Regions from separate parts of the Homo sapiens genome. Here region 1 is linked to region 2. Evidence: fine-mapped expression QTL. A gene starts in region 2. The other region holds a variant in brackets. All regions are shown on one strand. Distances are between the middles of the regions. Region 1 overlaps PLXNC1 (plexin C1). Region 2 holds the start of PLXNC1 (plexin C1).

Region 1 (14,975 bases), 37 kb after region 2:
TGGCTATCAGGACAAGCTTCAGTGCAAGCCACGCTAAGTAGCTTTTTCAGGAAACTGATTGGTAAATCCTGGGCCACAGAACTTTTTGATAACTTGTAAAAAAAGAAAGAAAGAAAAACAAAGAAAGAAAGAGAGAGAGAGGGAGAAAGAAAGAAAGAGAGAGAAAGAAAAAGAAAGAGAGAGAGGTAAGGAAGGAAAGGAAAGGAGAAAGGAAGGGAGAGGAGAGGAGAGGAGAAAGGAAAGGAAAAGCTTCCTTGCCACAATTCAGAGTTCTAGAGAGAATATTGATGCTTCATTTCCAAGGTACCAAGTAAATAAATCAATGTTGCACCCAACTAGATCTTGCTGACCATCTGTATCAATGATGCTCCAAGAGTAAATAAAATAAGCCCCCAATAAAAACTGCAGTGCAGCTCCTAATTTACGTAAAATGGATGAGTGGTGGTGTAAAGTATGTTTTTACTTTGTTATTTTAAAGCAAACCCCACAGACATGATGTCGTTTCACCTCAACATATTTCGTTATGCATCTCTCAAAACCTACAGTTGTTTTCTTAAATAATAGTAACCATAATGCCATGATCACAGCTAATAAAATTATCAGTCATTCTTTAGGATCACTTACTATCCAGTCTGTGTAACTAAGTATTCCCAATTGATTCAAAAAGGTATTTTAAATGGTTTTGTTCAAATTGGTATCTGCACAAAGTCCTCAAACCAAATTTGGTTGTTCTATTATCTAGAGCAGTCTCCTCCCTTACTTTTATTCCCTGCCACTGACTTAACTGAAAAAACCAGGTATTTTGCCCTATAGAATGTCTCTTATCATGTGTTTGGCTTTTTGCTTCCTTGTGGTGTCATTTAGCTTGTTCCTCTACTCCTGCTTCCTAGTGCTAAATGGAAGTTAGTGCTAAAGACTTGACTAGATTCAGTTTCAACTTTATTGGCAAGAATACATTATGGGTGGTGCTGCCCAATGATGCTTTTGCCATGATGAATTCCTGAAGAGATACCAGGGCAGCAGCTTCTCTTCTCTTGACCCTTCCTTGATAATATTTCTATCAGTGTTTGTTTAAAAAAAACAAAAACTGGCTTCCTGTTTCTCTTTCCCTATACAACTGCTTTCCAGAACCAGATCAACTGAATCTGAGCTGATTAATACAGCTAATGAATTAGAGACGGCAAATCCTGGCAAGCCCATACCTTGGTCAGTGCCTGTCCCTTGGCTCCACTTACAGGATTCTGTAGAGCAGTGTTGGCCAAGAGAACTTTCTGTAGTGATAGAAATGTTCTACATCTGTACTCTCCAGTATGGTAGCCAGTCACCTTAGGTAGCTAGTGAACACTTGAAATGTTGCTAGTGTTTTTAATTAAATGTAAATTTTTAATTAAATTTAAATAGCCATTATGTGGCTAGCGGCTGTCATATTTGATAGTGCAGCTATAAAGTCGTTTTAAAATGACTTGAGACACACACCTTTCCCACCTCCCTTAGGACCTAACTGCTTCTGTTTTAAAAAGAGCTTTTAAGAAGTCATATTTCATATGTTTGGTTAGTGAGATTGACTTTTACAAAGCTGCTGCTGAATTTGATGAGCAGTCCAAGGGCTTCAAGTGAGCCACTATTTGCACCAAATCCACCTGGGCTTGGCCCAAGCAGATGATGGAAGGAAGTCACTGATCGCAGGGCAAAGCTAGACTCGGGCCCAGGTCCTGGAAAGGAGAAGTGAATGCGGGAAGTTGCTCTGTGCAAAATTGATAAGAAGCCTTTGGCTAAACAGCAAATCCCTAACTGCCATCAGGATATGTGGGAACAGGCATATTATTGATTAGTAGATGTGTGAAGTAGACTTTGTCCAAAAAGAATCTCAGGTGCCAAATTTTTCTTTTGAAACCATGCGCCCAATGTGGCTGATGTCTACAGTGGTAGAGATATGAATACAGATAATCTATCTGGATGTGTTCAAACTGACAAAATGTTGAACACCTTCACTTTTCAAAGTAGTGGGTACAAATTGTGTTAGGTACAAAGAAGATTAAAGGTTAGGTACAAAGGTGATTAAGACATGGTCCCAGGCCAGGCACGGTGGCTCACGCCTGTAATCCCACCACTTTGGGAGGCAGAGGCGAGCGGATCACCTCAGGTCAGGAGTTCAAGACCAGCCTGGCCAACATGGTGAAACCCCGTCTCTACTAAAAATACAAAAATTAGCTGGGTGTGGTGGCGCATGTCTGTAGTCCCAGCTATTCAGGAGGCTGAGGCAAGAGAATGGCTTGAACCTGGGAAGCAGAGGTTGCAGTGAGCCAAGATCGCACCACTGCACTCCAGTCTGGGCGACTGAGTAAGACTCCATCTCAAAAAAAAAAAAAAAAAAAAATGACATGGTCCCTGCGCAAAAGGAGCTTGCAATCTAGTAACAGATTATTATCTATTGACTATTGATTATGTGCTAAGCATCTTTCATAGTTCTTATTTGATCCTTACAAAACTGTAATAAGGAAGGCACTATTAGCCCCATTTTAGAGATGAGGAAATTGAGGCCTAGGGAGATTAAGTTACCAGTTCAAAGTAGTGCAGCTACTTAAAGGATGGAGGCAGGATGCAAACTCAAGCTTAAGCCACCATTATACTTCTCTAGCACTATAGGATTCGAGTCTCCCGATGGCTCTTCATACCCACACTTCAAACCCTGCCTTCTTACCATCTCCTCTTGCTCCTTGACCCAAAGCCCTGCCATGGCCTCCTCTCTCTCATCTACAGTAAAAGGCAGGCTGTTTACACAGGCCCACAAGACCCTTGATTATCATTCCCCTGTTATCTTACTATCTTACTGTTCACTCCTCTACCTCTCTCCACTGAAGCCACCCTGGCCTCCTCCCATTTTAGTTTCTTTGCACTGACAGGGCTGCTTTTAAGAACATGTTTCATTCAAGTATGAAAATAACTCATCTCCTGCAAGTCTAAATAAATATCACCTTTTCAGTGACACCTACCCTGAACATATATTCTCTTAACCCCTGACCCCACTATATTTTATAATTTACTTTTTTCTTATTAATAGTCTGCTGTTACTCACCCCACCATACACACACAGGAATGTAAGTTCTATGAGGTCAGGAGCTCTCCCTTCCCCATTTTGTTCACTGCCATTTTTCAAACACCCAGAACAGTGCTGGGTACATAATGGGTGTTGGGTAGATGTTTGTTGACTGAAGATGGATGAAGCTCAGGTGTGTCCAATTTCAAAACCACTGAGTACTGAGTCACACTTGCGTATATTTTATATGTGAACACAAACCTACTTGTCTGTATCTGCCAAGTTAATCTGGGTCACTTCTAACTGTATGATGATCAGAGTATCCTGTGCAAATACATGTGGGAGCTACTTCCTTTAATTTCCAGTCTCTCTTGAGACAGCACTAATGAAGCTGTCACTTGTGGCTTCCTATAGGGCCAGACATGGTCAGAAATTGTGGTCAGCCAGCTTCCACATATGAGGATACTACCCCAGCCCTGAAGAGCGGCTTTTTTTGTTTGTTCATTTTTGGTAACTTTGCCTTTACAAAAGAAGAAATATTATGCTTGTTATTACCAGCCTTGTTGAGGACTGAGATGTGGGAGGATGATTAAGGAGCATGGTACCTTAGGCAGTATTTGTAGTGAGTGAAAAAGGATGTAGCTTTATGATTAAGCTACAATTTTTGCCACCCTGCTATTCAAAGTGTTGAATAGAGGCCGGAAGTGGTGGCTCACACCTGTTACCCCAGCACTTTGGGAGGCTGAGGCGGGTGGATCACGAGGTCAGGAGATCAAAACCATCCTGGCCAACGTAGTGAAACCCCATCTCTACTAAAAAAAATTAGCTGGGTGTGGTGCATCTATAGTCCCAGCTACTTGGGAGGCTGAGGCAGTGGAATTGCTTGAACCTGGGAGGCGGAGGTTGCAGTGAGCCAAGATCATGCCAATGCATTCCAGCCTGGCGACAGAGCGAGATTCCGTCTCAAAAAAAAAAAAAAGTATTAAATAGAAATCATGTTTCTCTTTTTGAAAAAAAAAAATAGGTTATTCTTGGTGAGAATTTGACTTCAAATTGTCCAGAGGTTATCTATGAAATTAAAGAAGAGACACCTGTTTTCTACAAACTCGTTCCTGATCCTGTGAAGAATATCTACATTTATCTAACAGCTGGGAAAGAGGTAGGTAGAAATACTAGTTATTGCTTCTGATTTATGAATAAAAATGGTTTAATTGATGTCATTATCTAGTAGCAAAGCTTTTACTTTGAACTACAGAGTTTAAGCAGTGCCCCAGGCTTTGAGGAGACCCGCAGTGGTTCACAGGCACGGAATTAAAAACCTTACTGACTGTCAGTAAGTAAGCAAGAAATATTATCTATTTAGACAATTTTATTATTGGCTATATTTCCAGTGCCAAGTTTTTCAGAGGAGGGTGTGCTTGGAAATGGGCGCATAATCAGCAAGGTAACTGAATTTACACATTTATTGTGTGGGCACTGAACGGTTAGATGCATTTATGAATATACCCAATGGGACTGGCTTTGGAATTTGGGGTTAATATCAGGCCACAGTCTCATACACATTCATGAACCAGGAAATATATGGTACTCCCCCTCCCCCTCTTCATTTATCTTGCTGTTTTGGCTTTTCTTTTGCTTCTGCTTACTGAAATAAAAGTAATATATTTTTATATTTTCTTCATCTTTACCAAGTGCTGTCACCAAGGGAAGGGGAAAAGAAACTAATTGTTAATGAGTCTCTACTATGCATTAGTCACTATTCTTTGCATGATCTCTGTCTAGGTGCATAGAATTGTGTACATATACATACACACAAGTGTAGAAAACAGTGTTAATGAAATGTGTTACTGACCGGGCATAGTGGCTCATGCCTGTCACCCCAGCACTTTGGGAGGCTGAGGCAGGAGGATCACTTGAGGCCAGGAGTTTAAGGCTGCAGTGAGCCATGATCAAACCACTGTACCCTAGCCTGGGTGATGGAGCAAGACCCTGTCTCAAAAAAAAAAAAAAAAAAAAAAAAAAGGCTGGGCATGGTGGCTCACACCTATAATCCTAGCACTCTGGGAAGCCAAGGCAGGGATCACCTGAGTTCAGACGTTCAAGACCAGCCTGGGCAACATGATGAAACCCCATCTCCACTAAAAATACAAACAATTAGCTGGGCGTGGTGGTGCATGCCTGTAATCCCAGCTACTTGGGAGGCTGAAGAACAAGAATCGCTTGAAACCAGGAGGTGGAGTTTGCAGTGAGCTGACATCACACCACTGCACCCCAGCCTGGGCAACAGAGTGAGACTCTGTCTCAAAAAAGAAAAAAAAAAGAAAGAAGAAGAAAAAGAAATGTGTTATTAATTTAATAAAAATAAATGTGTTATTAATTTATTTTATGTGAAGAATCTAAGACTTGGAGAGGTTAAATAACTTGTTCAAGAATATCTGTATCTATCTATCTATCTATCTATCTATCTATCTATCTATCTATCTATCATCTATCTATCTATCTATAGGTTAGCCTTTGCAGGGCTGTGACAAAAACTCAACCCTGATTCTAAAGCCTCTGATAAATGATATTAAATCCAAAATTTGTGAAAACTGGACATTCCCTGGCTCAGTGGTTTTGACCTATGACCGTTTGAACATGGAAAGTGCAAAGAAGATAATTGAGACTTACATAATTATATAATGGATGTAACAGATACTCTCAGCCCAACCCTGGTTTTCCATTCTTTTCCTTTCAGTCATTCTAAGGAAAATAGCAATGACAGCAATCTACATGTGCTTTTTGAGTCACAGATAAGATGTGCAAGCAATTTGTAGTTTCTGGTATTCTTATAAAGACGATACTGTTCTTTGCACATTGAAAAGTCAGTTATATCAAAATGACCACACTGAGATGGCCACATCTTCCCACAGAGCTTGTAAACCAGTCCTTCACCATATAGAATCTCCTATGCCAATTTGCTTCACCATGCAGACACTTTGTATTATGTTTCTTCCCTGGGGATCCCATCTTTGAAAGACTTTTGTCTACCCAACAAACTGCACATATTAAGTAACAGTTCCCATTCCCAGGGTTTATTTATCAAGGGCGTCTCAAAACTGCCGGTCAGAGTACTGACTGTGTTCCCACATGGAGCTGATAAAATTCCAACCCAAAGCAAAGAAACTTGATATCTTCCTTAATCCATGCGTGTTTTTCCATTCAGCTGTCTGAAATATTGCAAATAGCTCATAAGCCCCCATTACTTCCTTCATGGATAGTAATGGAACCCCAGAACTCAGGACCCCAGGCTGGGAACCATTATGAAAAGCCACCAGTAGTTGATGGGTTCCCACTTTCTAGAAAGCAAAAAGTTCTAGCCTCTGATCATTCAAAGCCTGAAGTCCTGGGAAG[A/G]GTTTTTGACTGGGCATCAAAGCTGGTTAGCCCTGCATTCTTCACTGAGGATTACTGCTAGAGATCCTACTGTTTGAACTCTGGCTGAGCAAATATAACGCCTAAAGAGACAAAGTCCAAGGAAGGCTCTTGGGGAGATAAGAACAGCCAAACTAATAAGCTATGGGATATCCATAAAATGGTATGATACGGGGCCGCTAAAAATAATCATATGGAGATGTAGGCATTGATATGGAATAGTCACTACGGTCTGTTATTAAATTAGAGGGCAGGTCTAATGTAGTATTTTTAGTGTCCTCTCTCTCTCTCTCTTTTTTTTTTTTATGGAGTCTTGCTCTGTCACCCAGCCTGGAGTGCAGTGGCGCAATCTCAGCTCACTGCAACCTCCGCCTCCACAGGTTCAAGCAGTTCTCCTGTCTCAGCCTCCCTAGTAGCTGGGACTACAGTCACACGCTACCATGCCCGGCTAATTTTTGTATTTTTTTTTTTTTAATAGAGACGGGGTTTCACCATACTGGTCAGGCTGGTCTCAAACTCCTGACCTCAGGTGATCCACCCACCTCAGCCTCCCAAAGTGCTGGGATTATAGGCGTGAGCCACCTCGCCTGGCCCTCTCTCATTTTTTTTTGAAACAGAGTCTCACTGTCGCCCAGGCTGGAGTGCAGTGGTGTGATCTTGGCTCACTGCAACCTCCACCTCCTGAGTTCAAGAGATTCTCCTGCCTCAGCCTCCTGACTAGCTGGGATTACAGACGCCCACCACTATGCCCAGCTAAATTTTGTATTTTTAGTAGAGACAGAGTTGGCCAGACTGGTCTCCAACTCCAGGCCTGAAGTGATCTGTCCACCTCAGCCTCCCAAAGTGCTGGGATTACAGGTGTGAGCCACCACGGCCAGCCAGTGTCCTCCCTCTTATACAGAGTTATATTTGTGTGTTTAAATAGACTGAGTAATAGTTCTCAGAGAATGTTCTGGAGACCCATATTCCACAGAATGCTCTGAGCAAAAGTGGTCCCAGAACCAGCTGTTACTTACTATACCCCTCCTGGAATACTGTGAGGCTCAGCATAGTCAAAGGCTCCGAGAAGCCCTGTGCTAAGGAAACCCGTTTTGCTTTTTCAGTCTGAGGTTTTATGTTTGCTGGATCATGGAGCCCTTTTCTTGCATAATAGCAGTAACCAATACTTATTGAACATTTAGTACCTGTCAGACAATAGTTCATAATAACCCCATGAAGTCGTGATCCATTTTACAGATGAGGAAACAAGGTTAGAGAGATTGCATGACACTTATTAAAATCCATCAGTGTTACAGAGGCATTTGTGAACTACAAGGAAATACCTCTATTCTGGTTAATTCCGGCTCAGGATCACGGGCTGCCAGCTGCATCTGTCAGCAGTGTTGGGGACTATGAAATGGAAGGGCGTGGTTATCCTCCATGAAGTCAACTTGGAACTGAAGGATCCAGCTCAGGATAGTCCTTGTTTTCCTCACAAAATAGAGAAAAATAGAGAGGTCCCTTCTAGAACTCCTTATTTCTCTAACCTGCTAAAGAAGTTATTTATACTATCTAGCATGTACAACTTCCTGGCATAATGAGTTCCACAAGTTCCCTTACTACCTGCTGTGTGGTTTTGCCTGCAGAAAGTGCTCTGTGTGATGCTCAGTTACTCCCTGCCTCTCACCGCCCTACTTGCAGGCTCTGACTGGCTGCCTAGATGTCTGGGTCTGCCCAGCTGGGGTGCCCTCTTTGTGGGCTGCTGTTTCCTGACAATGGCAAGAGGCAGCTCTAGGGATGGGGAAATGATTTGACTACTCCCCCTGTTTCTTTTATTTTCAACTCCACTGGAGGGGTGTGAGCAAAACAAGCCAGGAGCTGAGGTGACGGCGCTGCCCCTGGCAGGGGTGTGGGAGGGCCTCGTCCCTGGTCCTCCTCGTTTCCACATTGAGTGCCAAACTCCTGCTGACACTCCTGGGGCAGAGCCTTTGTTATTCCCTAATACTCATTTCCAAAATGCCATTGGCCACATATGGACTGTCTCTGTATGAAAACCAGGCAACCTGATTCCATGATCCGTATGGAAATCATCATTAGCAGATCGGAAACCCAACTGGGTGTCAGACTCACCTGAGAGAGAGCTCTTAAAATACAGATTCCTGGCCAGACACAGTGGTGCACGCCTGCAACCTCAGCACTTTTGGGAGGAGTGCTTTGAGCCCAGAAGTTCAAAACCAGCCTGGGCAACGTAGTGAGACCCTGTGTCTTTAAGAAAAAAATCTTTTAAATGAAAAAATACAACTTCCTAGGCTCTGCCCCCAGACTTAGCGAGAGTCTCTGCGGCAGAGGCCTGGGAATACGCACTGTCAAAAGCTCCCCAGGTGATTGTGATACAATGACTTCATGTCCTAGATCTTGAGACCCACTGCCCAGTGCCAGTATGGAGGTGTTGAGTTCAAGTTGATAAATAGGCTCTTTTTGGCCCTTCATTAGATAAGGTGTTGTAGTTTTCCTGCTGTTGCTTATAATTCCATCTGAACCATTGTCCTCTTTCCTTTTAGGTGAGGAGAATTCGTGTTGCAAACTGCAATAAACATAAATCCTGTTCGGAGTGTTTAACAGCCACAGACCCTCACTGCGGTTGGTGCCATTCGCTACAAAGGTATCTCCTGAATTCTTTCTCACCAACTCGCATTTTTGAAAAAGTGTCATGCGGCAGAACACTTGTTGCCCTACTTTAACGATCCATTCCAGTGACCTGAGGGAACTGATCTCTTCCTCGACTAAAATCTTGTTGTGCAATCCTAATGAATTCTCGAAGGTGTTTCCAGCGGCGTCCGTGCTATGCAATCACTGGACCCGGGAGCTCCCCAGTCTCGGGGCGGGAGGGGCAGGTGTGCAGCCTTCAGGAGAACGGGAGAGAGCAGGCAGGTTTGGCTTTTACTTTCTCCAGAGTTCGCCAAGACTCAAGAGAGAGGCAAAAGGGCCCCCCCTCCGAGAAGATAAAAGAATAGAGATGTCTGAAAATTTTTCAGCTGAATCCCCATCATGTATGTCATGTATTCTGTTCGCTCCGCAGAAGCCTCGTTATTGATGGCGCCGTCTCCTAATGCGCCGCGCAGCTGTGGGCCTGATGTACAATCTCAGTCTCCGGGCAGAATCTGCCCAGCCTGGTCTGGAATGACGATGCTCACGACCCATCTAGGCTCAGGGGCGACTCGGAGCGGCTTCCCCGCCATGGCAGTTTCCTAGCGTCGCTGGGCCCGGCCTGGTTGGATTCGCCGTCGCCATGGCAACCCAGTACTGGGGCTCTTGCTGGAGAAGCAAAGGAGGAGAGAGCCTTCGCTGCAGCTCAGGCAGGAAAGAGAGAGAGAGAGAGAGAAAAAAAAACCCATAACAGTGTCTGTCAGTTTGGTGCTTTCAGTTTTTAAAGGTGAAAAGGATAAGAAAGAGCAGAGCAGGTGGAGAGATGCTGAAGGCTGAACCAGGGGACAGTTTGGGTTTAGAAAAGAGCAGGAGGAAGAGAATTGGTGACTGAAGGGGGAGACAGCCAAGAGAAATGAAGGGAGAGGGGGAAATGCAATACAAGCAAGAGGTTTAGGAAACAAATCAAAAATACGGGGATGGAATTAATTAAGAGTTCACGGGGGAAGGCGCAATCCGAGCTGCAGCAAGAGGAATAATTGCCCCTGCCATTTGCTACGCTTCCTTACCGGGCTGTTTCCGTCAGAGTCACTGGCAGACAAACGAAGCAAGGGCCAGAAAAATGCTCATGAATAATTCACTGATCACGAACGGGATTTGTTTGTTGCACACTCAGTGAGCAGTCTTGCCATAATCTTTTAGATCCATTCATTTATGTAGCATCCCTGTCTGTATTTGTAGAGCTGTGTACAGGAGTCAATTCGATAATGGTGGCGATGATGGTGGTGATTAAATAGCCACATGGAGCTAGCGGCTAACGTATTAACAAGCTCAGCTCTGGAGCTTTTGGGAGATCTCCAAGCTGGTGATATGAATTTGGGAGTTGGTAGTATTTTAGATGGTACTTAGAGAAGCCTTAAGACCAGACGAAGGAGTGAGTGTTGATTGAGGAGAGAAGTTTGAGAACTGGGCCTTGAGGGGCTGTGGTGTTTAGGGGTTGGGGAGAAGGAGGGGAAACAGAACAAGAAATAAGGAGGGAGCAGTCAGAAGGGGAAGAGGAAAAACTGGAGAGGGTGGTCTCCTGGAAGCCAAGGAAAGAAAGGAGGAGGAAGTGATCCACTGGGTCAGATTCAGCTGAGAGGTCAAGCAGGAGAAGAAAAGAATGGATCCTTTGCACTTAGCAGGTGACAATGGGTGACTGCTGGGAATGCCATGGTTAGGAGTGGCGCTAAATCCACAAGAGACAATGGGAAAATAAGACCTTAAGAAGGGACAGCTTAGAGAAGCTTTACTGAGAAAGGCAGCTGAAAAAAATGAAGCAGACACTGAAAGCGAAAGTAGAGTCCAAAGAATTTTGTCTTTTTGTCCTTTTTTTTTTTTTTTTTGAGATGGACTCTGGCTTTGTCTCCCAGGCTGGGGTGCAGTGGCATGATCTTGGCTCACTGCAACCTCCACCTCCCAGGTTCAAGCCGATTCTCCTGCCGCAGCCTCCCGAGTAGCTGGGATTACCGGTACGTGCCACCATGCCCGACTAATTTTTGTATTTTTAGTAGAGATGGGGTTTCACCATGTTGGCCAGGTTGGTCTCGAACTCCTGACCTCAGGTGATCCGCCTGCCTCAGCCTCCCAAATTGCCAGGATTACAGCCGTGAGCCACCACGCCCAGCCAGTTTTGTCTTTTTAAGATGCATGAAATAACAGTGCATGTCTGCACTGTTGGGAAAATTCCAGAAGAGAAGGAGAAATGGATGATACAGGAGAGAGAAGGGTTGTGGAGTGTTCAGTCTTTCAGCAGGTGGAAGAAAATATGACTTGGTGTGCCAGTAGGGAGGCCAGCCTCAGACAGGAGCACTGGCCCCTCACCCTCAGTGGTAGGAGGGAAGGTAGGGACTCTGGGCCCAAGCATGGGGAGGTGGCAGAGGCCTGTGTGGTGTCTTCTCCTATTGCTCACATTATTTTCAGTGGCCTACGGCCATTGAGAATGAGGTGAGGGAGGAAGCACTGGAGGTTTGAGGAGAAAAGAGAGAGAAGGAGTGGACTGGAAGACTAGGAGGGAGAATAGAATAGGGAAATATCGAGCGGTTGCCAGGAAGCATTAGGGCCCACTTGAGGTTGATGGTCCTGTGTTTGAAGTGAGAGCTGTAAGCATGGTTTTGTCTTTCTCAAGCTGCGTTCAGCTTTGGTGGTATAGCTGTAGACTCAGAAAAAGTTAGCTTTAGCCAGTTTGGGGGCTTTGCCGGAAAATACATCAAGAAAGGAGAGAGTGGCCAGGGAGCTGAGGGAGCATGTAAGGAATGGATGATGATATCGATATGGATGTTGATTCATATAATGATGGCACTTGGGCTCTAAGGAGGGAAATAAGGACCTGATAGGGGTAGGGATGTGAAAAGGTGGCAGGGTCTGTGTTGGAAGTTCAAGTTGAGTTTAAAGATTGTTAGGGGCAGGCGCGGTGACTCACACCTATATTCCCAGCTTTTTGGGAGGCCAAAGTGGGTGGATCACTTGAGCCCAAGAGTTTGAGACCAGCCTGGGCAACATGGCAAAGACCCCATCTCTACAAAAAATATGAACATTAGCTGAGTGTGGTGGTATGTGCTTCTGGTCCCAGCTACTCGGGAGGTTAAGGTGGGAGGCTTGCTTGAGTCCCAGAGGTAGAAGTTGCAGTGAGCTGAGATCACACCTCTACTTTCCAGCTTGGATGACAAAGTGAGACCCTGTCTCAAAAAAAAAAAAAATTGTTGGAACTAGAGAATTGGAAAGGGGAATTATTGGACTGTGGGGGCTTGATATTGAGGTCATGGAGGGATGGAGTTATTGGCAATGACAGGGTCTGCCATATGATTGTCAAGATCATTGGCAGAGAGGTGTCAAGGAACTGAGGTGGTTACCAGAGTACTAAATGGCTCCATCATCTGTGTGGAAATCGCAGTCACCAAGAGAGTGAGGAGCTACATATTCAAGGAACGAAGGGAAGTGGCCAGGGCTGGGGTGGTCTGTAATGATCACAATGAGGAGGGACCTGGGGTGGTTTGAGCTGACAGCATGGGCTTTGAAGCTGGGGAGGAAGTGTTGGAAAGAGAGAAGAAGGATCTTCCAGAAGAGGCTGCAAGACACAAATAGGACAGCTAGATGAGGGAGAGGAAGCAGCCAGGCCTTGAGAGGGGCCTGGGGAAGCTGTGGCCTCGAAGGAGAGCTGGTTTCAGTAATATTGAGAAGGGGAAAGGAACAATCAGAGAAGAGGTTGAAGACATGGGGGCTTCTGTTGATAACTGGCTGTGAGTTATAGTCTTTTGTTTGTTTTGAGACAGGGTCTCATCCTGTCACCCAGGCTGGAGTGCAGTGGTGCAATTACAGCTCACTAAAGCCTAGACCTCCCCAGGCTCAGGTGATCCTTCCACTGCAGTCTCCCAAGTAGTGGGGACCACAGGTGTGCACCACCATGCCCAGGTTTTTTTTGTATTTTGTAGAGACGGGGTTTCACCATGTTGCCCAGGCTGGTCTTGAACTCCTGGGCTCAAGCAATCCTCCTTCCTGGGCCTCCCAAAGTGTTAGAATTAGAGACGTGGGCCACCACACCTGGCCAAAAGCCTGCTTCTGCTCTTGCTCCCTCACCCCTATCCCAGTGCGCTCCAAGAAGAGTGATTCATTTAAAATCCAAATCAGATTATGTCACTCCCCAGCTTAATACCCTCCCCTGGCTTTCCATCTTAGAACTCAGTCTGACTCCCTTGCTGCCAGGGCCTGCATACCAGGCTTTCCGTGATCTGGCCTTTCACCACTTCTCTGACCTCTCATGCCATTCTCTCCTTTGTTTACTTAACCCCAGACATCCTGATTTAAGACTATGCTAAGCATGTTCCTGCCCCAGGGCCTTTGCATGTGCTGTTTCCTCAGTCTAGTACATTCTTCCCCACATCTTTCTATGGCAGACTCTTTCTTGACGGTCTGGTCCTAGAGCACACATCTCTCTGCACCTGCCTACCCAGTCTTCAGTAGCCTCCCCTTACTCACAGTGACATTACTGTTTTATTTTCTTCATGGCCCATCACTATTAGGAATGACCTTACTTCTCTACCTCTCTTTATTGAAATGTGCTCAGAAAAACATAAGTTAAATGAATGAGATAGGCTGAGTGATTGGTCGACTCTGCCAATAGCAGGTTAAGACTTGTGCCTTAAATCTTATAAGACATTCTGAAGTCATGGAGCGATGGCCCTTCACAGCCATGTCAGAAACCACTTGGTTTCAGACAGCCTGGGTTCTGGCCTACAATGAAATGAAACTAAGTCTCATATCTGTGACTCATATGAAGCTCCCAGTACCATTCAAAATTAGGAATTCTAAAGGGGGATGTTTTCTTATAATGGTAGAGCATCCCACTGTGTTTATTTTAAATGTCATGGATTTATTTAGAAAAATAATTTATTTTCTCTGTTGAGAAGGTTGAGTTTTCTTGCATACATGTCTAGAAAGTGGAATGGTGGGGAGAGGCAAGAAAACTATCTTCACTTCCTTTTGATCAGATGTTAAGAATAGGCATCCAGACTGGGCATGGTGGCTCACGCCTGTAATCCCAGCACTTTGGGAGGCTGAGGTAGGTGGATCACCTGAGATCAAGAGTTCAACACCAGCCTGGCCAACATGGTGAAACCCTGTCTCTACTAAAAATACAAAAATTAGCCAGGTGTGGTGGTGCATGCCTGTAATCCCAGCAACACGGGAGGCTGAGGCAGTAGAATCACTTGAACCCAGGAGACGGAGGTTGCAGTGAGCCAAGATCCAGCCTGGGTGACAGAGTGAAACTCCATCTCAAAAAAAAAAAGGGAATAGGCATCTAGTATAAGTAGATAAAAAGCAATTAGATAAACAATGAGCTCTAAAAAGTCTAGTATTTTATTGTTGGAACCTCAGATCCAACCTGTGCTGAATTTGTCTGTGTGGGTGGAAAGTGAATTTTTGCAGGCTGAATATCTTGGGTTTGGAAGCAGTTTCTCAGTTTCTCCCATATTGCAAAGCATAGCACATGTGTTCAGTTATGGATTTCCACAAAACTGGCAATCCCGAACCAATGAATGGGTGAGGTTCCAAAAGTTCATTTGCAAGTTTGTTTGGCATGCAGAATGCATTTTCCCATAGAAACAATGTCATAAATTAAGGATTGATTCCCAAGCCAGCCCATAAAATCCAAAATTATTTAATTTCAACAAATATTTATTGAACACCTAGTGAGAGCCTAATCTGGGGCATGAGATAGCTAGGTAGTATTGAGAGAAATCGGATGCCATTCTTGGCTTTAAGGAACTCGCATGCTAGCTGGGAAGGCAGACTTATCAATGGCCAACATTCATTCATTCAATCCTACATCCAATCACAAATATTTTTTAAGCACAACAATGTGCTA
Region 2 (14,975 bases):
AGCTGAGCGGGGTAATGCCCTCCGTGATGGAGAGCGCGTGTCCCACAGCCGGGCCAAGACGGTGCCCAACCGCAGATAGCCCCACTCTGAGGATGACAGCAGCGAGGAGGAGCACTCGCACGACAGCATGGTCCGCGTTGGAACCAATTACCAGGCCATAATTCCGGAGTGCAAGCCTGAGAGCCTCGCACGCTACAGCAACAAGAAGCTGAAGGGGGTGCTGGTGTGGTCACCCAACCACTGTGTGTCAGATGCCAAACTTGACAAGTATATTGTGATGGCCACGGAGAAGCATGGCTACAACATTGAGCAGACGCTGGGCATGCTCTGGAATAAGCACCATGTGGAGAAGTCGCTGGCTGACCTGGCCAACTTCACCCCATTCCCTGAGGAGTGGACAGTAGAGGACAAGGTGCTGTTGGAACAGGCCTTTGGCTTCCACGACAAGTGTGGATCCAACAGACGCTGCCCGACAAGTTGATTTCCAGCCTGGTGAAATATCACTACTCTTGGAAGAAAACCCACAGCCGAACTAGCATGACGGACAGACAGGCCCGGCGGCTGAGGGGCTGCAAGGACAAAGAAGACAGTGATGAGTTCGAAGAGAGTCGAGGAGGCCTGAGTGAAGGAGAGCCCGATGCTGGACACCCGAAGAGAGAGGTACAGAGCATAAAGCAGAGGAACAGCAGCCTGCGCCAAGCCCTGGAGGGCGCCATTGATCCACTCCGCGCTCTGGAGGCCAACACTAAGTTCAACTCCTGCTGGACCACAGAGGAGCAGCTTTTGGCTGCCTAAGCCATCCGGAGGTATGGCAGACTTTGGGGCTATTGCAGAGGTGATTGGGAACAAGACTCTGACCCAGGTGAAGACCTTCTTTGTGAGCTATTGGCACTGCTTCAATCTGGAGGAGGTGCTGCAGGAATGGGAGGCTGAGCAGGATGGGGCCCGTGGAGCCACAGTCCCCGTGGAGGAGGCTAGGAGAGGGGCTCCCTTGCTAGCCCCAGCCCAAGAAGAAGATCATGAGGTCCAGATTACATCGATCTCCATGTCTGTGTCCCGATCGGTGCCCCCCTGCACCACCCCCGTTCCACCTCCCACCTCCCTGCCCTAGGTGCCCCCTGCTGCTGAGGCCACCTTTGCCCACGGCTCCCACTCTGCTCTGACAGCCACCCACAGTGCAGCAGGGCCGCTTCCTCCAGCCCTGGTTGGCCCCCAACCAGCGCCCACCACCTCTCATCCTCCCCGCTCTGGCTGCCTGTCCTGGCCCTCCGCCCCTACCCACCCTGATTGGAGCCCCCAGTGCCCTCACTCTGAATCCTGAGGTCCTCCACCAACCACAGGCTCCAGGACCTCTTTGCTGGCCATCCCCAGGCATCTCTGGTGTCACTGAGGACGGAAGGGGCTAGGGCTCTTGCCAGGTCTTTCCAAGACCCAGAGCTGCCGACAGCCCAGCCTGGACCTGTGGGTTCTGCATGTGTTCCTGGCAGCTGGGCCTGTCTCTTGGGGCCATGGCCCGGGCTCAGGGGCCTTTGAGCTGGACTGAGGGCACTTTCGCTTCCTTGCTGGGACTGGAATGGCTGCCTCCTAGTTGGCTGGGGCTTGGTCTCTGGGCCCTGCCCTTTGTGTGTCGGGGGTAGGGACCTTAGCGTGGGGGTGGGACAGGACAGTTGGGTGTGCTGGCTGTTCTCATTCCTCTTCCCTTCTTTTAGCAATCAGTCTTGGGTGAGGTGGGAAGGGAGGCTGCAGGGGGAGGTGGCAGAGGGGCCTTACAGCAGCAGAGGCTGGAAGGGAAGTTCTGTCTTCAGGGGCCAGCTGGGAAACACTAAGGAGCTGAGGGTGCCCACCAGGCCCACCTTCCAGAAGCTTGGAGAAATGTGGGTTGGGAACTTATGCAGACATGGATTTACTTTTCAACATGTTTTAAAAGTTAAAAAAGAAAAACCTTCTAAAAAAAAAAGTAGCATCTTTAGAGGGTTCCTGTCTCTACTACATAGGTTTCCTTGAGTATAAAGGAACCAAAAACATCCAAGTTATCTCTTCATTATTAGTAGGGGGCGACATAGGGTGAGGTCTGGAGATGAGGAAGTATAGCAATCTCTTAATAATCCTGCTTTGGTAATAATGAATATCAATGGAATTTCTCAACTTTATTGAAGGGACAGCTGGAGTTCAGACTTAAGGAGAAATGTCTTAAAAGGAAAAAGCGGCATGCTTGGTTTTGTATCTTGTTTGAAAATATATTTCAAACGTTCAGCAGAATTTTAGAGATCATAACCACCCTCTGCCCCCACCACCTTCTGAACCCTTAGTCCCCAGTAGTTCTGATTTACTTTTAAGATTCTTTTAGTTTTATGTTTTAACTGAAAAAAAAAAAAATCCTGCCCAGCCAGGTTTCCATCTGTCTGTATCACCGGGTTGAATTTAGTGTAGGAAAGCCTGTGCAAAGGGAATAAAAATGTAGCTTTTTTTCCATTGCCAGATTCAGGGGAACCAACCATTTGGAAACAAAGGAGTTCCATTTTGACTAGCAGCCTTTCTGCTTTCCATCAGTGGACAAAGTGAATGTACAGGTTTAAACATCATTTGGGGTCACCTCTAGATCCATGTTTGGAGGTAGATTGGTTTGTTAGTTATGATTCTGGCAGGAAACAGGTGACACATGCAAACAGATACATTAATTGAGGGACCATGGCCGAGCCATGCCAGGATGAAGGGAGACCAGCAGAGGCTAGCCACAGCGACAACCATGGAATCCCACAGGCCTGAGGAGGAGGGTGAGGGAGTGGTTACTGGGTCCACGAAAGGCTGTGGCTACAGTGTAGCTGTGAGAGAGGACAGCCCACAGGAGCTGTGGCCTTGTAGAGGGACACAGCCATGGCCAATGCATAGATCAGCAGAGAGGGAGCTGGGAGAATAAATATTCAAACTTCACCCTAGCTGTCCACCCCTAGATCTCTGGCTGGGGCTTCCCATTGGCTGAATCCAACGAGAAGCCAAAAGGCAAGGGTGATGTCCATAAATGTCAAACTTCTGGGTCTCAAGCAAAAGGGGGAGCAGTGGGGAAATGGTCTGCAGGGAGAAGAAGAGACTATTCAACACAGACGGGGAAGAAGAACTAAATAGGAAGGACTAGGGAAGGGGTGAAAGAGATTGCGGTGATGGTTTCAAGGGTGTAGACTTATCTCCAAGCACAACATGTTGTATATAATAAATAGGTATGGATTTTTGTATGACAGTCATACTTCAATGAAGGCTTTGTAAAAAAAAAAAAAATAGGGGCAGGAGAGCGAGGCAAACACTCGGTCTTCCATGAACTTTGCATTTGGGATTCTGTGCGTGGGGATGAGTGCCTGAGAGATGCTGTTTGGACTGCCATATTCCCAGGGCTTCCCCAGGATGGGTGATGAGTGGGGCTGCCCCCACCCTGGGGCCATACGCCAAACTGCCCGACCGCAAGAGCCCATGCTCAGAGCTGATATTGGTTGCTTCCTCCCGACCTTGGTGGGGCTATTTTCTAGGGAGTGGCAAGGACATAAGAATGAGAAGCCACACCAGCTTGGTGGAGAGCACTAGAGGGCTCACTGCGAAGTCCAGCAACTTTATTGTCAGCTCAGAGCATCTCCCCACCAGAATCTCAAGGAAGCGGAAGTACAAGTGGCTGTGAAGTTATCTGCGTGTTTATCTTATCTTCTGCTATTCATTTCAAGAGTTGGAGTTATTATTAATAAGAAGGCCTGGTTTCTGGCAGCTCTTCTCTTAGAATGGGTTTATGCCAAGCTGCCAGTTATCAGAGGATTCAGAGCCTAGGATTATGCTGACAGCGAGTCTCAGAGCTGTGATGGGAGGGCAAAGACACGGGAAACAACGTTGTATTAAAGAGGAATCAGCGTTTTGTGTCTAGTCCTTGATGCCCTTTTGGCTTCCTATTTCCGAAGAACAGCAAGGAAAATACAAGGAGAGACAGACTGGAATCCTGTGAATATCAGAGAAAAGCTTGATTTTCAAGAGACTGCTCAAGTTACAGAGATTCCCCAAATCTGAAGAAGTAATTAACTGATGAGTTCGCATACTTCATGCAGGGTGAACTCCAGCCGGTCTAGAAAAACACTGTGATGGTTGATGATTTACCATACTTTGCTTTCAACCAGTAATTGTCTCAGATTCTTAACCACTGATGGTTTTGGTGAATGTTTTGGAGAAAAGGCTCGAGAGAAACTTCATGACACTAAACATACTCTCTGAGAAGTGTGGTGCTAGAATGCTAAGGTGATGTCCTAGACTTCGCAGTCTCTTAAACATATCTGACATTATATTATGCTATGGCATGCTATGCTATGCTATGCTATGCTATGCTATGCTATGCTATGCTATGCTATGCTATGCTATGCTATGCTATGCTATGTTATGTCTTTTTAGGCAATAGCTCATCCCTCCCTAAAGCAGAGTGAATGCTCTTATTTAGCTTAAAGACAGTCATTGGACTTTGAGTAAAGAGTCATTTTCTTGTACGTTCCACTCCACCCTCCAGTGTACATTTGCACTCTGCTGGCGAATGACCATGAGCTATTAAATCATGACAAAGAAAAAGATGACAACTGTAATGTTGGGAGTGACCCCCAAGTCCCACCTACTGAAGGAACACCACAAGCCTTCCTCACTTTAAACCATGGCATGGGGGCACTATCACCAAGCATAAGAATGCCCAGCAATCGTCTGGGGCCATGTTGGGTGGGCAGAGAGGATGAGGCACTGAGTTCCTTCAGCCACGTCTTAACTGTGCCATGTCAGAGAGACTTTTCATGTTGATTGAACTGTGTCCAACTCATCTCTCAGCACCAATGCGAACTTATTAAACAGCTCTTCCTCTAATCTTTTTTCAACCATCTACTCATCAGCAGACTAGAAAGAAGACTGGCTCATTTCTTTTTCCTGTCAGCCACCAAAAGGGCCTGGGAGCTTTGATAAGGGCCTCGATGTGGAAGACCACATAGATATCAGCAAAACTGTGGAGGAAGAAGTGGTCTGCTTAAAACCTAAGAGGACAATACAGGTACTATTCCACCCACTGGGTGGTATTTCCAAATTCTGCACAGGGGGTTGTAGCTATGTAGATGAGGCTTAGAGAGAATTCACTGACCACCAGAACAAATATTCTCAGTTGCTTTCAATCTCTGCCAGCCAAGTCATGCTACAGACCACTGTCAGATGAAAAAAAAAAAAAAAAAGAAAGAAAATCAGAAAGAAAACTGAAGCACCAATGATAGCCATCTTGTGACTGTGACCAATTGCCTACTGAACAGTTCTTAATGTCCTGGGCCCCAGCAGGAAACCACTGAATCTATAAAGTCCTGTCCACCAGAAATGAGTCTGATTGTGGATGGCCTGGTTAACCCAGATTGCCTTCGGTGCCTGAGGGACTTGATATTTTCTCATTATGAAGACTTTCCCATCTAGTGAACGCTGCAAATAAAACTGCTCAGAATCGGTCTGAACTGCCTGTTTCCGTGGTAGCAGGCCTCTGTCTGGAGGATAAATCTGCACCATCTTCTTTTTTTTTTTTTTTTTTTTGGGTTTCAGCCAGTTGTGTTACAAGGAGTTCCGAAATGTGCTATAAGTGACACCCAACAAGATGGGCTCGGCCAGTTGGAGAGGGAAGCTTTGTCACCAAAGGGACTTGCACCCCTGGGCCAGACGGTGGTGTCCAAGAGAAAGTGATCAAAGAGATACAGAACCCGCATGCCTAAATATTTATTTCAGTTGTTCGTATTTCCCACACTTTTCAAATGTGAACTTGTGTCCTGAAGGTGGAGCTTTAGTACACAAGAAAATTGGGAAGGGGCAAACATGTTTGTACAAAATGGGGGTAGAATCAGCAAAGAATGCATTTATATGCTTCCTCGTCGCCTACGTTTTTCATGCCAAAAAGTTAGCACAGATTCTGATTTCTTTCACCGTAGGAGTCTGCATACAATTAAATGGGAGGCAAAAGAAGCCCACTCTTAAGAGTGGGGCTTATGGTCCCAGTAGAATGGCAGGGAACTGTAGCCATCAAAGCCATTTATACTTCTTGTGGGTAGTATTTTTAAGATGTTGTTTCTTTTTCAAAATGAAGCAGCAATGAACTGAGTAGTGATCAAAATGCCGCACCACAGAGTATGTTTAATCCAAATAGCTCCCAAGATGGTCTGTGACTGATTGTACCAACTCTACGGGACTTAGAGAAATGACTTGGTTACCAGTGAAGTAAAACTATCTCTGGAATGGAATTGAACTGTTGCTTCTCAGCACATAGCGACACTGCCACCGCTGGTTCACGGAGCCAGTGAAGGTCACTGAGTTCTGCATCAGTCACAGGGAAAACTGTCAAAACACCAGCGCATAAATCCCCTACTATGCTGTGGAGGGGGTCTCTGAGCTTCGGATGAGGTTTTTAAAATATTGATCTTCCCACTTCCAGAGGTGCAAAAATTCTGAAAGCATTCCAGGAGGGCAGGGAGTGGGGGAGCAAGGCCAGATATTTTGGAGCAGGTGAAACATCTGACTTGTCTTGCCTGAGATGTCCCGATTAACACCAACTGGGTACTTTAGGCCTTTCCCCTTCTTCCTCCCCTCTCCTTATGGACACTCCAACACCATCATCACAGCACAAAGGGCAACCTCATATCTCGTGGGAAGGCATTTTCTGCCTCCTGCCAGGCAAAGATAATGTTATCCAATTGCAAATGAAAGGCTTATGAATGAAAAGATGACCACTCTGACTTTAGTGTATGAGAGCCACTGCTGAAATGATAGGATCCTTGAACTTCACATCTAGAGCAGAAACTCACACTTCTCTTCTTCTCCCTCCACCTCACCCTTCTTTCCTTAAGCCTTCCAGAACTCCTGCCATATCCCTCAGCACTGGGGAGAACTTGAAGCACTGTTGGAGAAGTTTGAAACCTGCAACCTTCGGCAGGACTCAGCATGGGACAAAAGCCACCTCATTCCTTTCCCTTCCCAAAACAGCATCTCGAGCTGGGGAACTTGGAGGGAAGGAAGAAAGGGGATAGCAGCCAATTGCCCTCCCTGGGGCCTGGGGTCTGGAAATAGCCTGGGAAGGAACAGAGATCATTTCCCAACGATCCATAGAGGTCCTCAGCACCCTCCACTCCTATGCACCCCCTGGCTCATCTGCCAGACTGTAAGGGTGCTGATGGTGCCCGCAGCTGCCCCGGGAAGCTGGGAGGCATTTGTGCATCCTCTGGGAAGCCCCATTCCGAGAAATCATGAACCTATTCCCCAGTGGGCAATGATTCCCTGTGCTTCAGAAATTCTTGGCGGCTGTGGGGGCAACCCAGCTGTTATTCACCCTCTGGGTGAGGTGGTGAGACCTCAGGGGGTCCAAAGGATAAAAGTGGGTAATGATGAGACAGATGGAGAGCCTCGAGGGAAATACGGGGACTTGGGTCTAATAGTAGAAAGCAGGGCGGGGGCTGGTTGGTGCATTTAACTTGAGGAACTTTTCAGTCTCACTACAGAGAATGATCTCTGGGGGATTATGGCAATGGCCACAGGTGGCACTTAACTAGAGCCAGGTATGTAAGAGGCCCTGGGGCTAGATATGGATTCGAATCTCGGCTCTGATATCTACCAGCAGTAGAATGCCAGCACGTTCCACAACCTTTCTATAACCATTCTCCTGGACTACTAAGTAGGGATGACAATAACAGTCACTAATTAATAGGGCTGTTATGAGAATTATGAGTCTTAACCCATGTGGTGAGTTCACAAGCGCACCCGGCACGTAGTAAGTGCTCAGTAAATGTTAGCCCCGCTCATTAGGTTAGATGGTGAGCAGAACTTTCCAAGTGCTAGGCTTGAGAGCCTGGGACTCTGTTGCCAAGGGAGATTAGAGAACCTTTGCAAATATGGGCGCTCCGGCCCTGGGGATTGTCCAGAACGAGAGTGTGGCGCCTGCCTTTCTGCCACCTCACTCATCCGACCCGGGGAAACCCACACCCTGTCACAGGGGCGCCTTGGTCCCCGGAGTCTCCGGCTCGGCCATGTCTCCCGCGCGCCTCCCCGGGGCCTCCCTCTCGCCGCTCCACACCTGTCAGCCGCTCTCGCAGCAGCCCTGTGGCCCGAGCCCGGGGCCTCAGCTGCAACCCCTTCGCACCCTGGATCCTCGCTCCGCGCGCCTGGCGTATCCCCGACCCGGCTGCTGTCGTAAACAAAACCGGGCGTTGGAGCAGCACCGCGGGCGGACGGGCGCGGGAGCCCGCTCCGTGCGCCGTTAGCGCGCCCCGGGAGCCCCAGGCGAGCCAAGGGGGCGATGGTGGCGGCCGCGGCGGCCGCGGCGGGCGGCTGAGCTTTGTTATGAATAGATGAAAGAGGCCACCTACACAGTAACCCAAATTACGAGACCTCCCTCCTCCCTATCTCACCGAATCAAGAGGGGAGGGGAGATGGGCGTGGAGGGAGGGCGGGCGGGCGGGCAGGAGGCGGAGGGCGGAGGAGGAAGAGAGGATGAGGAAGGGGGCCAGTTGCATCCCACTTTCACAATGGGAAAGTGAAACGCACAAGCGCACCCAACCTCTCCAGCCCTCCCCGCCCGCCTCGCTCCTCTCCGCCCGTCCCCTCCCTTCCCCTCCGCGCCTCCCCGCGAGCGCCAGCGCTGCACACAGGAACTCTCCGGCGAAGGAGGGCGAGGAGGAAACGGTGCCGGAGCGCGCAGGGCTTGCTGCCGCCACCGCCGCTGCACAGGCTGCCGGAGCGAGCCTGCCGCGCGCCGCCCTCCCCGCTCTCCTTCCTGGGCGAGCTGCGGGGATGGGGCGGCCGCGGGAGCCCGAGCGCGCGCAGGAACCGCCGCCGCCGCCGCCCGCGTCTCCGTTGCCGCGCGCCTGAGCCGCCGTCGCCGCCGCGCGCCCTGCCCGGGGGCGGCCCCCCCAGCCCCATGGAGGTCTCCCGGAGGAAGGCGCCGCCGCGCCCCCCGCGCCCCGCAGCGCCACTGCCCCTGCTCGCCTATCTGCTGGCACTGGCGGCTCCCGGCCGGGGCGCGGACGAGCCCGTGTGGCGGTCGGAGCAAGCCATCGGAGCCATCGCGGCGAGCCAGGAGGACGGCGTGTTTGTGGCGAGCGGCAGCTGCCTGGACCAGCTGGACTACAGCCTGGAGCACAGCCTCTCGCGCCTGTACCGGGACCAAGCGGGCAACTGCACAGAGCCGGTCTCGCTGGCGCCCCCCGCGCGGCCCCGGCCCGGGAGCAGCTTCAGCAAGCTGCTGCTGCCCTACCGCGAGGGGGCGGCCGGCCTCGGGGGGCTGCTGCTCACCGGCTGGACCTTCGACCGGGGCGCCTGCGAGGTGCGGCCCCTGGGCAACCTGAGCCGCAACTCCCTGCGCAACGGCACCGAGGTGGTGTCGTGCCACCCGCAGGGCTCGACGGCCGGCGTGGTGTACCGCGCGGGCCGGAACAACCGCTGGTACCTGGCGGTGGCCGCCACCTACGTGCTGCCTGAGCCGGAGACGGCGAGCCGCTGCAACCCCGCGGCATCCGACCACGACACGGCCATCGCGCTCAAGGACACGGAGGGGCGCAGCCTGGCCACGCAGGAGCTGGGGCGCCTCAAGCTGTGCGAGGGCGCGGGCAGCCTGCACTTCGTGGACGCCTTTCTCTGGAACGGCAGCATCTACTTCCCCTACTACCCCTACAACTACACGAGCGGCGCTGCCACCGGCTGGCCCAGCATGGCGCGCATCGCGCAGAGCACCGAGGTGCTGTTCCAGGGCCAGGCATCCCTCGACTGCGGCCACGGCCACCCCGACGGCCGCCGCCTGCTCCTCTCCTCCAGCCTAGTGGAGGCCCTGGACGTCTGGGCGGGAGTGTTCAGCGCGGCCGCTGGAGAGGGCCAGGAGCGGCGCTCCCCCACCACCACGGCGCTCTGCCTCTTCAGAATGAGTGAGATCCAGGCGCGCGCCAAGAGGGTCAGCTGGGACTTCAAGACGGCCGAGAGCCACTGCGTAAGTCCTGCCCCCGGGGCGCCGCGGAGAGCGCTGCTGCCGGGGAGCCGCCGCCGCCGCCGAGGCAGAACGAGCTGGGGGCGAGCGGCGGGGCGGGGGTACAGCCGGGTGACATTTACCAGGTCTCAGGTTCACACCGCGGGCGGCCGTCCGAAGGCTCCTCTCGGACGGTCCCCGAGACCTGGAGCACGGCCTGAGGTCCCCAAAGGGAGAGTGTAAAAAGGGGGGCGGGGAGGGTTGGAGTTAGACTCAAAACTCTAGTGGCTGCATCCCATTGCCATCCTTCCCTGTCCAAACGGGGACGCTTGTTTGGGGCTGAGTCTCCTCGCGCAGCCCCTCTTTCCCATTCGCTTCTCCAGACTTCTCTGTGCCCCTTCCGTGTAGTCCCAGCAGGCGTGTGGGTCTGACCCTCTTGGTCAACAGTTAGCAACACAGTGCCCTCGGCAGAGAAGCCATTGAACCTAAAGGGCTCCCTGCCACACCCCAGCCTTTGTGGCCCCCTGTCTCCGCCCCCCACCGGCAACGCAAGTGCTGTGGTCTGAAGAGTTGCTAGCCCGCTCAGCGTGGAGAAATGCCAGCCTGCAACAGAGGCTTGCGCTGGAACCGAACCCCTGGCGTGAGCCGGTGCGAGGGGGCGGTGCCGTGGCTCTGCTCAGGGTGCGCTGTGGTCGCCAGCCGCCGGGAGAGGCTGGGCGGGAGGTGGCCTTGTGGTAAAAGCCTCATCCTAGAGGGGAGTGCAAGGGAAAGTGTTGGGGGTGCTACAGGCAGTTTCTGGGCTCCAGATTGCGAGACTAGATGGCGGGACTCAGAGTCACCACCCTGGGGCTGAACCAGGCAAGCGATACAGGTTTCCCCTGGGCTCCCAGGGCAGCCACAGCTTTTATCTTGAGATTGGCATTTCTTTGACTGGAAAATAAAGAGGCAGTTCAAGAGGGTCCAGTTGATGGGGATTATGGAGCCATTGTGCACTTCTCCGGAGGCCGTTTCCCTTCCAAGGCGGCTGGCACATCAACTCCACATATGGCTCCTGAGAGGGGAGCCTGCTGGGAGCCTCCTTTATAACTGGACAAAAATCAAAGCGCAGAAATTAACGGCTACAGGTGTTGCCATTGTTTTGGTACAAAATGAATCAGAGAGGAAGGGGAGAAGTCACTGCTTGGAAAATGTGTTGATACAGGGGCACGTTGGCTCCCAGGTATATTAATATGTGTATAGAAAGACAGCTTCCCCCACCCCCTTCTTTCTCTGCAAAGCACATCTTACCAAATATTAGCCCTATGAGCCAGGGAGAAAAAAACCAGGAGGTCTTTTGCAAGGCTTCTTAGAACGGTCACTTGCTGCTGCTTCTTTGCCTGTCAAGCTGTGTGCTGGGACACACACATTAAGGCCTTCATTTTGTTACTGGTATAATTTTTAAAAATATGTAAAAACACATATTTGCCTCCTAAATGACTTGCTGTTGCCGTACACATATAATGTAATATTTGATTCCTGTCTTTATTAGATCTTTATAATCTAACGGTTTAAGTTTGGTAAAATTATCGTTTCCTACTTCTCTGTTGAAAGACTTGAAAGTACCCCCGAAATATTACTTTGTGTCAAGCTTTAGACACACTTAGTCTCTGGGGTTAATGACAAGCCAGCTCAGAGGCCCACAGCAGGTAATGAGGGTGAAAGTCCAAGCTTTGCCATCTGACAGCTGTGTCGATGTGTGGAGCCAAAACATTTCTCTTGACTGCGTCTCTCTACCTATTGGGTCCTGGAAGACTCAGTTCCCTTCCAAACCCAGCCAGCATCTTGAATGCACTCAAAATCCACGTTTTGGCTCAATCAGGTGTTCCTGCTTGTGCCGGGATGGGGAGGGGCAGTGGCAGAGGAAGTCGCGGAGCTTCTGCGAGAGAGCTGCCCCTTGGAAATCAAGCAAAGGATAAACACATGCTGCCAAAAATCTGGAACTGGAAAAATAAATAATTAAAATGGGTCCCTCCACAGCATTTCTTGCTGCTATTTATCAAGAACTCCCAGTGTGCTCAGAGCTGTGTGTTCTGAAAGACAGGGTCTGTACCCCCTGAGCTTGTCAGCCAAGTTAAATAATATACTCTGGTTCAAACAATAGCATGTCATGGCTGCACAGGTGGGAGCTTGGAGCTTTGCATTTTTTTTTCATTTAAGTAAATTCCTTGCTGCTAGTATGCATTGAAAAGCCTTAATGGAATTGAATTTCAAGAGGAGTTTGAATGAAAAAGGGTGGTAGTTTTGATGAAAAAGCTGACAATTTTCTAACCTATTAAATAGGTAGAGAAGATACTCAATTCAACAAATATTTGTTTGATGCCTGCTAGTGTAAGCAATGCTCTGTGCTGGGTGCCACTGATTTTGCCACTGAAAGGACGATAGCAGATTGCAACCTTGTGTAATGGGGTCATGGGATCAGTGTGCCCCTGGCTGTCACTCAGAAGAATGATGTCATTTGATTGCATTTGTTCTGCATTTTATTTTCAGGTCTTGAATGTGTTTTTGAAAAGGCATGCTGAATTATAGGTGCCTAAAACAGGAGCAGGACTTGAAACACTCTAGAGGGAACCTCAATAGATTCCAACAGCAATTCCTTTAGAGCAGACACAGTAATTTTAACAGTAATCCACAGGCTGCAAGGCACAAGCGGCTGGATTTGCTTGCCTTCTTTCTCCCTCTCCTCCTAGCTGGCTCTTATTTTCCGTCTTCAATCAGCCATAGGTAGAAAAGTGACAGGACTGACTGGGTTGTATTTTCCCACTTTCTGGTTCTCTTATCTCTTGTCACTGATCCTCCTCTCCTTCAGCTTCTGCTAAGCAGTGATTTACGAGATGCTTGTGTAATGAGTGTGTACTCAGCTGTTTACACACTGGACCATTACTTTTTCTGCCTTGCCACCAACTTTGAATCCACTTTCATAACTGTAGCAGGTTAACTGCAGCTCTCAAATGTGCTAAGGCAACCGATTTCTGTAGACCCTCTCTCTAATAATCTTCTGTGATATTTGTACAGCACTTCCACATGTATTATTTCTTTTGAGCCCCGCATCAAGTCTGAGGTTGATTCTATGGGGATGATTTCATTTTCCAGATGAGGAGGCTAAAGATCCGTTAAGCAGCTTGCTCAAGATAGTTAAGTGCCAAAGCCCTCCACCTTAAATCCAGGTCTTCCAATGTCTACATCTCTACTCTTCCCACCACCCCAGGGTTTCTCGAACTTTCCCTTGAAGGTCCCCTAATTAAATTGGCAGCAAACAACCTCCCCTAGGATGTGGGGTTGAGGCTAGAGGGTAACCTCAGAAGGCAGTACATGCCTCTAATCTTGGCTTGTGTTTTAGAACTTCATGTGGTCTCTTTCCTTTTTTTCATTCTTTTTTATAACACACCTGTGCTTGGATTAGTATAAAAATGAATGTTTTTAATTATGCACAAGTTAATCAATTTGACTTCCTACCTTTCTGAACTCTCACTACCCCTGGCACACCAACGTGATACACAGAAAGTGTTTGTGTTCGAGTTTGTGGAGTCTGATTGCTCCAGACTTGTTTGGCCACCATTGTTGGGTTCTGGGGTCACTCGTGGTTTAAACATGGCAGCCACCCCTCGGTAGACATTGAGGGTAGTACGTTTTCCTGCAGTATTGGTCCACAGGACTCTAGATCATTCTAGTTTGTTCTCTAGTTCATTCTACCCTTTGTAGGGGGACATACCGCCTTCTTCCACGCCTACATAATTCTAAAGCCTGACATAATTTAACTGTCATGCAGACAACCACAGAATGCTCACATGCTGCCCAACAGAGAGCAACCCAAGGAACATGTGTGGAGAAGTGACATCCCAGTTCCACTTGGCGATGCAGCCTATTGACCTCAAAATCCGCAGTCTTCTTGTGATGTTTATTTCTCTTCCAGCTTCTGTTATGATTTTGTCAAGCCATTTTGCAGTCTATAGACTAGATGGTGATTTTACCCTCATATACACATATTATATGCAAAAATGGATTCAAAAAGGACAATTGCCATGACAGCACCCACTTAGAAAGAGGGGAAAGCAATCATAGCTACTATCTACTGAATAGTTATTATGGCCAGGTTTTGTGTGAAGCAATTTACATGCCTTATTTTCTGTTGATTCTCATTCACCATATGGGGCAAGGACTGTAGTTATCATGATGATTAGAGATGAGAAAATTAAGGCCCAGAGAGCTTCTGTTAGGTTCCATAGCTGGAAAATAGCAGAGGATTTAGAACCTGGGTGGTCCAGCTCTACGACCTGAGCTTTTAGCCACCTTACAAGTCTATATTAAGGAGCCCTACCCTATTACTATTAATAATCATGATGGTGATGATAGTAAAGACATCCAAAGCACACGGCATTTTCTATGGGTCAAGTAGTGCTTATTCTATACACATTAACTCATGAATCCAGAGAATATTGCTGTCAAGGAAATGGGATTCCCCACTTATAAATAAAGAAACCAAAGCACGAAGGGTTAAATAATTACTACATGCAATAATGTGTACATGTCCACTGCCATGGACAGTCTGTCAGCATGGACATTAGGTCCTGATGTCAACCCTAACCTGTATGGAGCAAGCTAAGCCCTTGCAACTGCTATGCTAAGACCAGCTTTTTGTGGACACAGGCATAGGATAGCAGAGAATCCTTAGTTATGAGCTGAGTTTCTAGGTTTGCATTGGTGACCACCTGAAGTTCTGACTCTGGCAGGATTGTAGTTTCTTAACTGTGAACTTCTAGACAGTGTTGGTGTTCTGATCTATACATCATCTCAAAGGGTGTTCTCTGTTGAACCCCCCATACCTAGCATAGTACCCAGTATGTAGTTGGGACTTCAGAAATATTTGTTGAATGAATAAATGAAGGATCGTAGAGAATCATGTTGGAAATGTTTTCTCTACTCAGCAGCAACACTTTCTGGGAGTCTGGTCACCTCATACTCCCTTAAT

The links. PIP is the estimated chance that this variant, and not a neighbour inherited with it, causes the effect.
Region 1: its variant is fine-mapped to the expression of PLXNC1 in whole blood (TOPMed, PIP above 0.99).

Annotation. Positions count from the first base shown.
Region 1 is chr12:94,177,385-94,192,359 of GRCh38, forward strand. PLXNC1 (plexin C1) reads left to right here. Exons shown (of 31, transcript NM_005761.3): 3 at 4,062-4,196; 4 at 8,989-9,089. Among named protein-coding and RNA genes, the nearest start is that of PLXNC1-AS1, 8.4 kb to the left of the region's middle. RefSeq lists enhancers at 7,845-8,346, 9,513-10,013. The variant A/G (reference allele first, on the strand shown) is at 6,431.
Region 2 is chr12:94,140,040-94,155,014 of GRCh38, forward strand. It overlaps PLXNC1 (plexin C1), which reads left to right and starts at 8,538. Exons shown (of 31, transcript NM_005761.3): 1 at 8,538-9,994. The coding sequence starts at 8,933. It also overlaps the pseudogene RCOR2P1. RefSeq lists silencers at 8,305-8,434, 8,445-8,694, 8,765-8,994, 9,125-9,364, 10,025-10,164 and 1 more and enhancers at 9,565-9,664, 11,005-11,064.